Regions from separate parts of the Homo sapiens genome. Here region 2 is linked to region 1. The links come from fine-mapping of genetic effects on gene expression. A gene starts in region 1. The other region holds a variant in brackets. All regions are shown on one strand. Distances are from middle to middle.

What was found.
Region 2: its variant is fine-mapped to the expression of FAM169A in whole blood (TOPMed, PIP above 0.99).

What each region holds. Positions count from the first base shown.
Region 1 is chr5:74,863,896-74,869,275 of GRCh38, forward strand. FAM169A (family with sequence similarity 169 member A) reads right to left here and starts at 2,492. Exons shown (of 13, transcript NM_001376049.1): 1 at 2,270-2,492. FAM169A-AS1 (FAM169A antisense RNA 1) reads left to right here and starts at 1,998. Exons shown (of 1, transcript NR_134288.1): 1 at 1,998-3,380. RefSeq lists silencers at 1,939-2,108, 2,179-2,428.
Region 2 is chr5:74,786,725-74,792,104 of GRCh38, forward strand. The region is part of intron 11 of FAM169A (family with sequence similarity 169 member A); the gene reads right to left. Among named protein-coding and RNA genes, the nearest start is that of NSA2, 22 kb to the left of the region's middle. The variant G/A (reference allele first, on the strand shown) is at 3,174.

The DNA.
Region 1 (5,380 bases):
CCCATAGGCCTAGGATAGGTCCAGACAGGTCACCTGCAATCTCTAGCAGGCAATCTTTGCTTACTTAAATTCCCTAAACCAAGACTCATCTCTAAATGTCCAAGGTTCTTCTCGCCTCCATAATTCTCCCTATAGAATAAACATATCTATAATGGGAAGCACGATATTTTTGCCAGGGATGGTACACAATATGTAATCACTTGTTTGAAGACAAAATTAGTGGGAGAGTCTTCAACAAAACAGAAAATAAATAGTTTAATTTAATAAGGAGGATGGCATGGAAACTTTACCTCAAAAGCACTTAATTATTTTGTTTTCTCCAAATCAAAATCCTTTGTTGGATATATATTCCATCTTGGTGTTTCACTGTTGTTGCCCAGGCTGGAGTGCAAGGGCACGATCTCGGCTCACCGCAACCTCTGCCTCCTGGGTTCAAGTGATTCTTGTGCCTCAGCCTCCCGAGTAGCTGGGATTACAGGCATGTGCCACCACACCCGGCTAATTTTGTATTTTTAGTAGAGACGGGGTTTCACCATGTTGGCCAGGCTGGTCTTGAACTCCTGACCTCGTGATCCACCCGCTCTGGCCTCCCAAAGTGTTGGGAAAACAGGTGTGAGCCACCGCACCCGGCCTATATCCCATCTTTATTAAATAAATACCACTTGTAATGACATGAATACTATCTCAAAGGTCAGACTAATTTGAAGCCTTTTAGAACCTAAAATCCACAGGTAAAACACCTTAATTTATGGTCACTCATGTGGAAGGTCAATGTTGCTACTCACATAAGCTATTTCTAAGTTCCCCAAACAGATCCCCATCATTAACTTAGAGAAAAGTCCACTATAATAGCTACAAGATTTCTGTGAAAGACGATCATGTTTTATCTTTGTTTGCGCTTCAAGTGTTAGGATAAACGGACTTTTCCCAGGTGCCTCTCACCATCTCATTCCTTGCCTTTCCTCCAAAACAAGCAAAACTAAAACACTAAAAATTTTAGTCTGGTCCATACTAGTCAATAAAAATCTTTCCTCTTGTAAACACTTTATAGCACGATAAGGGACGTAGTTTGCAAAGATCATCTGTACATCCTGTGTAAAAAATAAAAACGCATGGCACACCAAACCCAGATCCACTTCGGTGAATTCCCTCCAGGGCCCAAATGTGTGCATTATGCAACAGCCAGCACTCCCGATTGTAATCCCTGTCTGTGATGCAATGACAAAATATAAATGGCTTGGGTATAATCTGCTCAGTTCGTAAGTAGTAATTCGCAAGAAGCCAACGAATTAAAAGAATTCCCAAATTCTCAGGAACCTTGAAAATGACAAATTGTGTCACAGTTCTGTGAGAATCACAATGAAAACTTTCCCTTCTGGAAATTTTTTAGAAATATGTCCCTCCGGTCCCAATCCCCCAAAAACCCGTACACACGTTTTAATTTACGTTAGGAACGGCTCTCCCAGCGGGGGAAGGTGACCTGCATCAGGTGGTTATCTTCGAATCCACCCGATACGATACCCACGCCGCTTCCCAGACGCTGAAAAGCCAGTGAGATGCTTCATCCTTTCTCCCCAAGGACAGTCATGGGAGTCAGTGTAATCCAGACCCCCGAGCCATAAACCACCCAGGGTTCAAGGCTTCACCTCCTGAGGCACAGGCCTCTTGAAAAATGGCATAATGGAGAGCTGAGAACACAATTAGGACAAAACTGCAACGACCAGCATTCCAGAGGAGGGAGAATCATACAATATCTGTTCCAAAAGTAGTTACAGGTAAAGGAAGGCGGTCAGAGCATCTCTGGAGGCCACCTGGTCGGGTGAACCGAGTCTAAACGCTGAAGTTCCACACCTCCCCGAGTCCGCGTCTCCCCAAGCCAAAGCAATCAGCTCGCACGCCAAGCATCCAGGTGGGGAGAGGGCGAGGGGAGGGGGCGGCAAGCCGCAGCTGCGAACCGGCCCGCGGCGGAGGCGAGCGAAGACGGGCATTCCCTCACACAAAATGGTGGCGCCGAGGCGGAGGCCGGCGCACCTGGGGGCGCCACACGCCCTACGGGATCCCCGCAGACCGCCGCCAGCTGGACGCGAGCCCCGGGTCCAGGCGGCCCGCACTGGTCTGCGCCAGGCCCAGCCCGCAGGGGCCGCCCACAGCCGGTGGCCCGCGTCGCCGCTCGGTGTCCGCGGGTCTGGTGCTGGCGGGGGCGCGGGGCCCGGCGCGGCCGTCTCGGCCTCACCCAGCGGTCCGCGCCGGGGAGAGGGAGCGCACTCACCTCAGACGCGCCCCGGGAGCCGCTGGAAGAGCCCGGGAAAGGAGGCGGAGCCGCGCGAATGAATGGAGCCGGCGGCTGCTCGCTGGCGACCTCCGGCCGGTCCCAGGCCGCACAGCTCGCGGCTGCCAGGGCGAGTGCGGCTGCCTCCCGCTCGCCCCGGACGCCCGGCTCCTCGTCGCGGGTCGGCCGCGGCCCACCGTGCCCTCCGACGACGTGACGCACTAGCGCCGCAGCGCCTCCAGCCTTCGCTTCCGCTCCGCGCCCGCGCCCACCGCGAATCCCCCCGCCCGCCAGCGCGGAGCGGCCCCTCCTCGGAGCCTGGGACGCCGCCCTGCCTCCCTCCAGCCCCGGCTTTCAGGCGCCGGCCCGGCAGGTGCGGGCTTGGCCAGCCCGGGGGCGTCACGCGGCCCCCGCCTCGCCACCCGCGCCCCCTCTCTCCGCCCCGGCCGCCGTCACCCGGCAGCGCGACGCCCAGCTCAGGGCAATGGCCTGGTATTAAAGAGTGACCTTGGCTTAGATATAAAAATAGATGCGGTTAAGCCGCGGGGGCTGCAACGCTGATTTTGCGTATTCCTTTAATGCCGACCTTCGCAGGATTCTGTTCGCATAGCCCGGTGGAGTTCTCCAGCCCCGCGTAGGCCCTCCTGAAATTTACCCAGAGTGGGCGCGGCCATCCCGGCCTCGGGACAGGGGTGCAGAGGGCACGGGCGAGGACCGCCGGCCTCCGCCCCACCACTTTCATCCTAAACCTACTGCCACTTAGGTGCATGCAAGTTAGAATCGTGGGCTGCTTTCACAGTCTACAGAAGTCCTAGAGCCCGGACTTTCATCTGGAGATGTCAGGGAAATACCACATTCCTGCGCTGACCTTTTCTCTTTCACCGTTTAACCGGTACAGAATAACCCTGACCCAGAAAGACAACAGGGTTCCATCCGGCTTTCCTCCCGTGCCTCTCCCAGCTCTATTCTACCGTCTTATGGCCTCTGGCGCCTTTGCTAATTACACACTCCTACTGAAAATTAGCCCTCCAGCATTTAAAACATGATAAATTGTCTTTAAGGTAATGCGTATTGTAGTCTAAATATATTTAATAACTGTATTGAGAAACAATATTGTATCTAAGTATTAATGTCAAGACTTTCTTTTACTCATCATCCAAGAACCGTAGTATTATGTTCAGCTCATCCAGAAAAGTTGAAAATTGCTTCTTTCATTCCTGGGAAATATTTAGCAATCACAATACCAACTTTCACGAATTTACTAATGATTAGCAAAATTAGCAAGATCAAAAAATACTTCAAAGAATGCTTGTTGATATAGATATATTTGACCCTGATTTTTAAAAAAAGCTTTTCTGCCATATAAGAATCTATTGTTTCATTTGTATAATATTTAATTAGCCAAAATCTTTACTATTACACATCATTTACCATTTTAATGAAACTTAATGAATTAGATTTAATAGAGCAGGAATTTTGGGTAGTTGGGTTCTACCCATAGCCAGTGATGAATGAAATTATATGACTTGTATTTACATTTCTAGAGCTATGTGTAAGTAGGAGTCCCCAGGGTAATCCCAAACAATTGCCATTTGGGGAAGCTTTGGCTACCAGACTATGCCCTACAGATGTTGAAGCCTCAGGCCTTAGTGTAAAGCTAACCAATACAACTTGTTGATAATATTTGAAATGCCTGGGTGTGATTGACTCTTAGCTATTGTTTTAGAAGTATGCGGGTATTTGTGCCTGGGTCAGGGAGGCCTGGCTCCCAGATGTCTGGCTATTCTGGTAGGAGACAGAACTACATTCACCCAGACCTATAAAAGAAAAGGTCCAATTTTTTTTTTTTTTTTTTTTTTTTTTTTTGAGACAGGGTTTCACTCCCACAGCCTAGGCAGGCTGGAATGCAATGGCGCGATCTCGACTCACTGCAACCTCTGCCTCCCAAGCTCAAGCGATTCTCCGGCGTCAGCCTCCGGAAGAGCTGGGACAGAGGTGCACACCAACGCACCTCGCTAATTTTTGTAGAGACGGAGTTTCGCCATGCTGCCCAGGCTGGTCCTGAACTTCTGAGCTCAAGCGATCCGCCCGCCTCGGCCTCCCAAAGTGCTGGGATTACAGGCGTGAGCCACTGCGCCAGGCCTGATTCTCTTTTCCCTACTTGCAAATGACACTATTTTTGAGAGTTTTTGGTTTTTTCTTTTTAAATCACCATTGACTTCCCTCTTTGGCTGAGATAAATTTTGCTTATCTTAGTGGGCAAAGAACAACAACTAAAAACATGAGCCTTTGTCAGATTAGTATATGCTGAAAATTGTTACCACAATATTTTGAAATATGCTTTGAGGCTTTTTTCTGAACCGTTTTTAGAGTAAAAGGATTATTGCTTTGGTTTTTGTTTTTGCAATGCTTGCTTTAATTATTACTTTGTTATTAGCAAAGGAAACATGTTAAGAGTTCGTTCTGATTGTATTTTTCCTCTATGTTTAAAGAGGAGTGGAACCATCTTAAGTAAAAGAAGCTTGCCACAACCCTGGATTTTGGAGGTTACTAATACACATGACCCAGAAAAGAGCTCTTTAGTTGCACTGGGGAAGAGGAATTCTTAATAGCTAAAATCATAACTGATGTTTTTGACAGCTAACAAATTGCCAGGCACTCTACAGACTTCTTTATGGAAATTAATTCACTTAATCCTCTTACCATCCTTGCAGGTATACACTGTTACCCCCAGTTTACCTAAGAGGAGTCTTGAGGCACACAGAGAAACTAAGCAATTTGCCCATGGTCACACAGATAGTAATCCTAGCATGTTGGCTCAAGAGCACACTCCCTTAACCAGAATTCCATACTGCCTTAAATGTGCACAAAATCCTATACCATATGGATAGATTTTGCTTTTGAAGCCCTAAAACATACTAAATGTCCTATACTTTCAAGTTTAAATAATTTCTTAGATCTAGTATTTTCCCAGACAGGAAGGAAGAATTAAAACTAGTTACAAGTTTACAAGTTAGAAAGAAAACTTGTAAAAACTTCCTCTGGTATATACTAAGCAAAATTTTATAATCTGTTAGTTTTTGAAAAACACATTTTTCATTTTTACATCAT
Region 2 (5,380 bases), 77 kb before region 1:
TCCTGTAGACAAAGAGCTGAAATTGTGGAAAATCAGACACAACCTCTTATCATGTAAGTGGCTGACCTGCAACGAAAGGTGCATGCACAGCCTCGCCAGGTGTCTACTCTTAAAGTGAGGGCCCTGATTGGAAAAGAATGGGACCCTGCAACTTGGAATGGGGACACGTGGGAGGACCCTGATGATGCTGGGGACACAGAGCTTGTAAACTCTGATGAGACTTTTTGCCAGAAGAAACAGCTTCGCCATCCCCAGTAGTGGTAACATCACCTCAGGAGAAGAGAGCCAGCCCTGTTTGCTTCTAGACCTATAACTGGACTAAAGTCCCGGTGGCCTCCTAGAGGTGAAGTTCAGAGTGTGACCCACAAGGAGGTGTGCTACACTTGAAAAGAACTGCTAGAGTTTTCTAATTTATATAAGCAGGAATCTGGAGAACAGGTGTGGGAACGGATGTTAAGGGTGTGGGATGATGGTGGAAGGAACATAGAGTTCGATCAGGCTGAATTTATTGATTCGGGCCCACTAAGTAGGGACTCTGCATTTAATGTTGCTGCTCAGGGAATTTAAAAAGGTTCTAATAGCTTGATTGCTTGGTTAGCTGAAATACGGATTAAAAGATGGCTCACTCTGAGCGAGCTGGAAATGCTGATCTCCCTTGGTTTAATGTAGAGGAAGAGATCCAAAGGCTTAGAGAGATTGGGATGGTGGAGTGGATTAGTCACTTTAGACCTACTCATCCCAGCTGGGAGGGTCCAGAAGATATACCCTTGACCGATGCTTTGCGAAAGAGATTTGTGAGGGCAGCATGTTAATCTTCAAAGAGCTCTATGATTACTCTTCTCTGTATGCCAAATCTAACAGTGGGAACTGCAGTCACTCAACTACAAAATTTAGAACGGGAATAATTGGATCCTGACGTGGCAGAGGCCAAGTGGGAGCACTCAACCATCAAATGCAAGGTGGGCGAGCTACCATAATGGACCGCAGCAGAGGCAAAGCAGCAATCAGAATAATCTGACTTGTGTACAGCTTTTGCACTGGCTAATTAATCACAGTGTTCCCAGAAGTGGAATTGATAGGAAGCCTACTGAATTCCTACTTAATTCATATAAGTGGAAAACTTCCAGGTCGAGTGGACAAAAGACTAATCTGAATTATTAAAAAAAAGAGAGAATCACAGCCCCTCAATTTCCAGACTTGAGCCACTTTATAGACCCAGAACACCTTGAATGAAGCCCCTTGAGGAAGGACCCCACTACAGTAGAGACAATTTATGCTGTGAGTCTTTCTCCCATCCTTCCCCAAGGAGACCTCTGGCCTTTTACCAGGGTAACTGTGCACTGGGGAAAGGGAAATGATCAGACATTTCAGGGACTACTGGACACTGGCTCTGAGCTGACGTTGATTCCGGGGGACCCAAAACGTCACTGTGGTCCTCCAGTTAAAGTAGGGGCTTATGAAGATCAGGTAATCTAATGGAGTTTTAGCTCAGGTCTGACTTACAGTCGGTCCAGTGGGTCCCCGGACTCATCCTGTGGTCATTTCCCCAGTGCCAGAATGCATTAATTGGCATAGACATACTTAACAGCTGGCAGAGCCCCCACAATGGCTCCCTGACTGGTGGGGTGAGGGCTATTATGGTGGGACAGGCCAAATGGAAACCATTAGAGTTGCCTCTACCTAGAAAAATAGTCAATCAGGCCGGGGGCGGTGGCTCATGCCTGTAATCCCAGCACTTTGGGAGGCCAAGGCGGGCGTATCACCTGAGGTCGGGAGTTCGAAACCAGCCTGACCAACATGGAGAAACCCCATCTCTACTAAAAATACAAAATTAGCCGGGCATGGTGGCACATGCCTGTAATCCCAGCTACTAGGGAGGCTGAGACAGGAGAATCGCTTGAACCTACGAGGTGGAGGTTGCGGTGAGCCAAGATCGTGCCATTGCACTCCAGCCTGGGCAACAACAGCGAAACTCCATCTCAAAAAAAAAAAAAAGAAAGAAAAATAGTCAATCAAACACAATATCGCATCCCTGGAGGCACTGCAGAGATTAGTGCCACCATCAAGGACGGTGCAGGGGTGGTGATTCCCATCACATCACGGTTCAACTCTCTCATTTGGTCTGTGCAGAAGACGGATCTTGGAGAATTACAGTGGAGTATCATAAACTTAACCAAGTGGTGACTCCAATTGCAGCTGCTGCACCAGATGTGGTTTCATTGCTTGAGGAAATTAACATATCTCCTGGTACCTGGTATGCAGCCAATGATTTGCCAAATGCCTTTTTCTCCATTCCTGTCCATAAGGCCCACCAGAAGCAATTTGCGTTCGGCTGGCAAGGCCAGCAACACACCTTTACTATCCTACCTCAGGGGTATATCAACTCTCCAGATTTGTGTCATAACCTTGTTCAAAGAGACCTTGATCGCTTTTCACTTCCACAAGTTATCACACTGGCCCATAACATTGATGACATTATGCTGATTGGATCCAGTGAGCAAGAAGTAGCAAACACACTGGACTTATTGATGAGACATTTGCATGCCAGAGGATGGGAAATAAATCCGACTACAATTCAGGGACCTTCTACCTCAGTAAAGTTTCTAGGGGTCCAGTGGTGTGGGGCCTGTTGAGATATTCCTTCTAAGGTAAAGGATAGGATGCTGCATTTGGCCCCTACTACAACCAAGAAAGAGGCACAGCACAAGTTGGCCTATTTGGATTTTGGAGGCAACAAATTCCTCATTTGGTTGTGTTACTCCAGCCCATTTATCGAGTGACCCAAAAGGCTGCCAGTTTTGAGTGGGATCCAGAACAGGAGAAGGCTCTGCGACAGGTCCAGGCTGCTGTGCAAGCTGCTCTGCCACTTGGGCCATATGATCCAGCAGATCTAATGGTGCTTGAGGTGTCAGTGGCAGGCAGGGATGCTGTGAGAAGCCTTTGGCAGGCCCCCATAGGTGAATCACAGCGGAGGCCTCTAGGATTTTGGAGCAAGGCCCTGCCATCTTCTTCAGATAACTACTCTCCTTTAGAGAGACAAGTGCTGTTTGGAGCCTTTGGCAGGCTCCCATAGGTGAATCGCAGTGGAGGCCTCTAAGATTTTGGAGCAAGGCCCTGCCATCTTCTGCAGATAACTGCTCTCCTTTTGAGAAACAGTTCTTGGCCTGTTACTG[G/A]GCTTTGGTAGAAACCGAATGCTTGATTATGGGTCATCAAGTCACCATGTGACCTGAACTGCCTATCATGAACTGGGTGCTTTCTGACCCATCTAGTCATAAAGTGGGTCATGCACTGCAGCATTCCATCATCAAATTGAAGTGGTATATATGTGATCGGGCTTGAGCAGGTCTTGAAGACACAAGTAAGTTACATGAGGAAGTGGCTCAAACGCCCATGGTCTCCACTGCTGCCACCCTGGCCTTCTTTTCCCTAGCCTGCACCGATGGCCTTATGGGGAGTTCCCTATAATCAGCTGACAGAGGAAGAGAAGACTAGGGACTGGTTCAAAGATGGTTCTGCATGATATGCAGGCACCACCCAAAAGTGGACAGCTACAGCCCTATAGCCCCTTTCCTGAAGGACACTGGTGAAGGAAAATCTTCCCAGTGGGCAGAACTTCGAGCAGTGCACCTGGTTGTGCACGTTCCAAGGAAGTAGAAATAGACAGATGTGTGATAATACTGATTCATGGACTGCAGCCAATGGTTTGGATGACGGTCAGGGACTTGAAAGAAGCATGATTGGAAAACTGGTGACAAATTTGGGGAAGAGGTATGTGGATGGACCTCTCTGAGTGGTGAAAAAATGAAGTTATTTGTATCCCCTGTGAGTACTCTACCAAAGGGTGACCTGAGCAGAGGAGGATTTTAATAATCGAGTGGATAGGATGACTTGTTCTGTGGACACCACACAGCCTCCTTACCCAGCCGCCCCTGTCATCACCCAATGGGTCCATGAACAAAGTGGCCATGGTGACAGGGATGGTGGTTACGCATGGGCTCAGCAACATGGACTTCCACTCACCAAGGCTGACCTGGCTAAGGCCACTGCTGAGTGCCCAACTTGCCAGCAGCACAGACCAACACTAAGCCCTTAATATGACACCAGTCCTTGGGGTGATCAGACAGCTAATTGGTGGCAGGTTGATTACACTGGACCTCTTCTATCATGGAAAGAGCAGAGGTTTGTCCTCACTGGAATAGACACCTACTCTGGATATGAGTTTGCCTCTCCTGCACGCAATGCTTCTGCCAAGACTACCACCCGTGGACTCGCGGAAGGCCTTATCCATCATCATGCTACTCCACACAGCATTGCCTCTGAACAAGGCACTCACTTTACGGCAAAAGCAGTGCGGCAGTGGGCTCATGCTCATGGAATTCACTATTCTTACCATGTTCCCCATCATCTTGAAGCAGCTGGATTGACAGAATGGTGGAATGTCCTTTTGAAGTCACAATTACAACGCCAACTAGGTGATAATACTTAGCAGGGCTGCGGCAAAGGTCTCCAGCAGGCTGGGTATGCTCTGAATAAGCATCCAGTATATGGTACTGTTTCTCCCATAGCCAGGATTCACAGGTCCAGGAATCCAGGGGTAAAAGTGGAAATGGCATCACTCACCATCACCCCTAGTGATCCACTAGAAACATTTTTGCTTCCTGTCCCCATGACATTACGTTCTGCTGGCCTAGTGGTATTAGTTCCAGAGAGACGAACGCTGCCACCAGGAGACACAACAATGATTCCATTAAACTGGAAGTTAAGATTGCCACTTGGACACTTTGGGCTCCTCCTACCTTTAAGTCAACAGGCTAAGGAGGGAGTTACAGTGTTGGCTGGGGTGACTGACCCAGACTATCAAGATGAAATCAGTCTACTACTCCACAATGGAGGTAAGGAAGAGTATGCATGGAATATAGGAGATCCCTTGGGGTGTCTCTTAGTATTACGATGCCCTGTGATTAAGGTCAATGGGAAACTACAACAGCCCAATCCAGGCAAGACTACAAATGGCCCAGACCCTTCAGGAATGAAGGTTTGGGTTACTCCACTAGGAAAAAAAAACATGACCCACTAAGGTGCTTGCTGAAGGCAAAGGGAATACAGAATGAGTAGCAGAAGAAGGTAGTCATCAACTCCAGCTTCGACCACGTGACCAGCTGCAGAAACCAGGACTGTAATTGTCATGAGTATTTCTTCCTTATTTTGTTAAGAACATGTTTGTGCATGTATACATTTGTACTAAGAAAATATCTTCATTTTATTTCCCTTTTCCTTTATCATGTGACATAAGATTTATTGACATCATATCAGCATTAAGTGTTTATGTAATATTATTTGGGTTGGGGGTTTCCACTTGTACGAATGACAGTTGTATTAT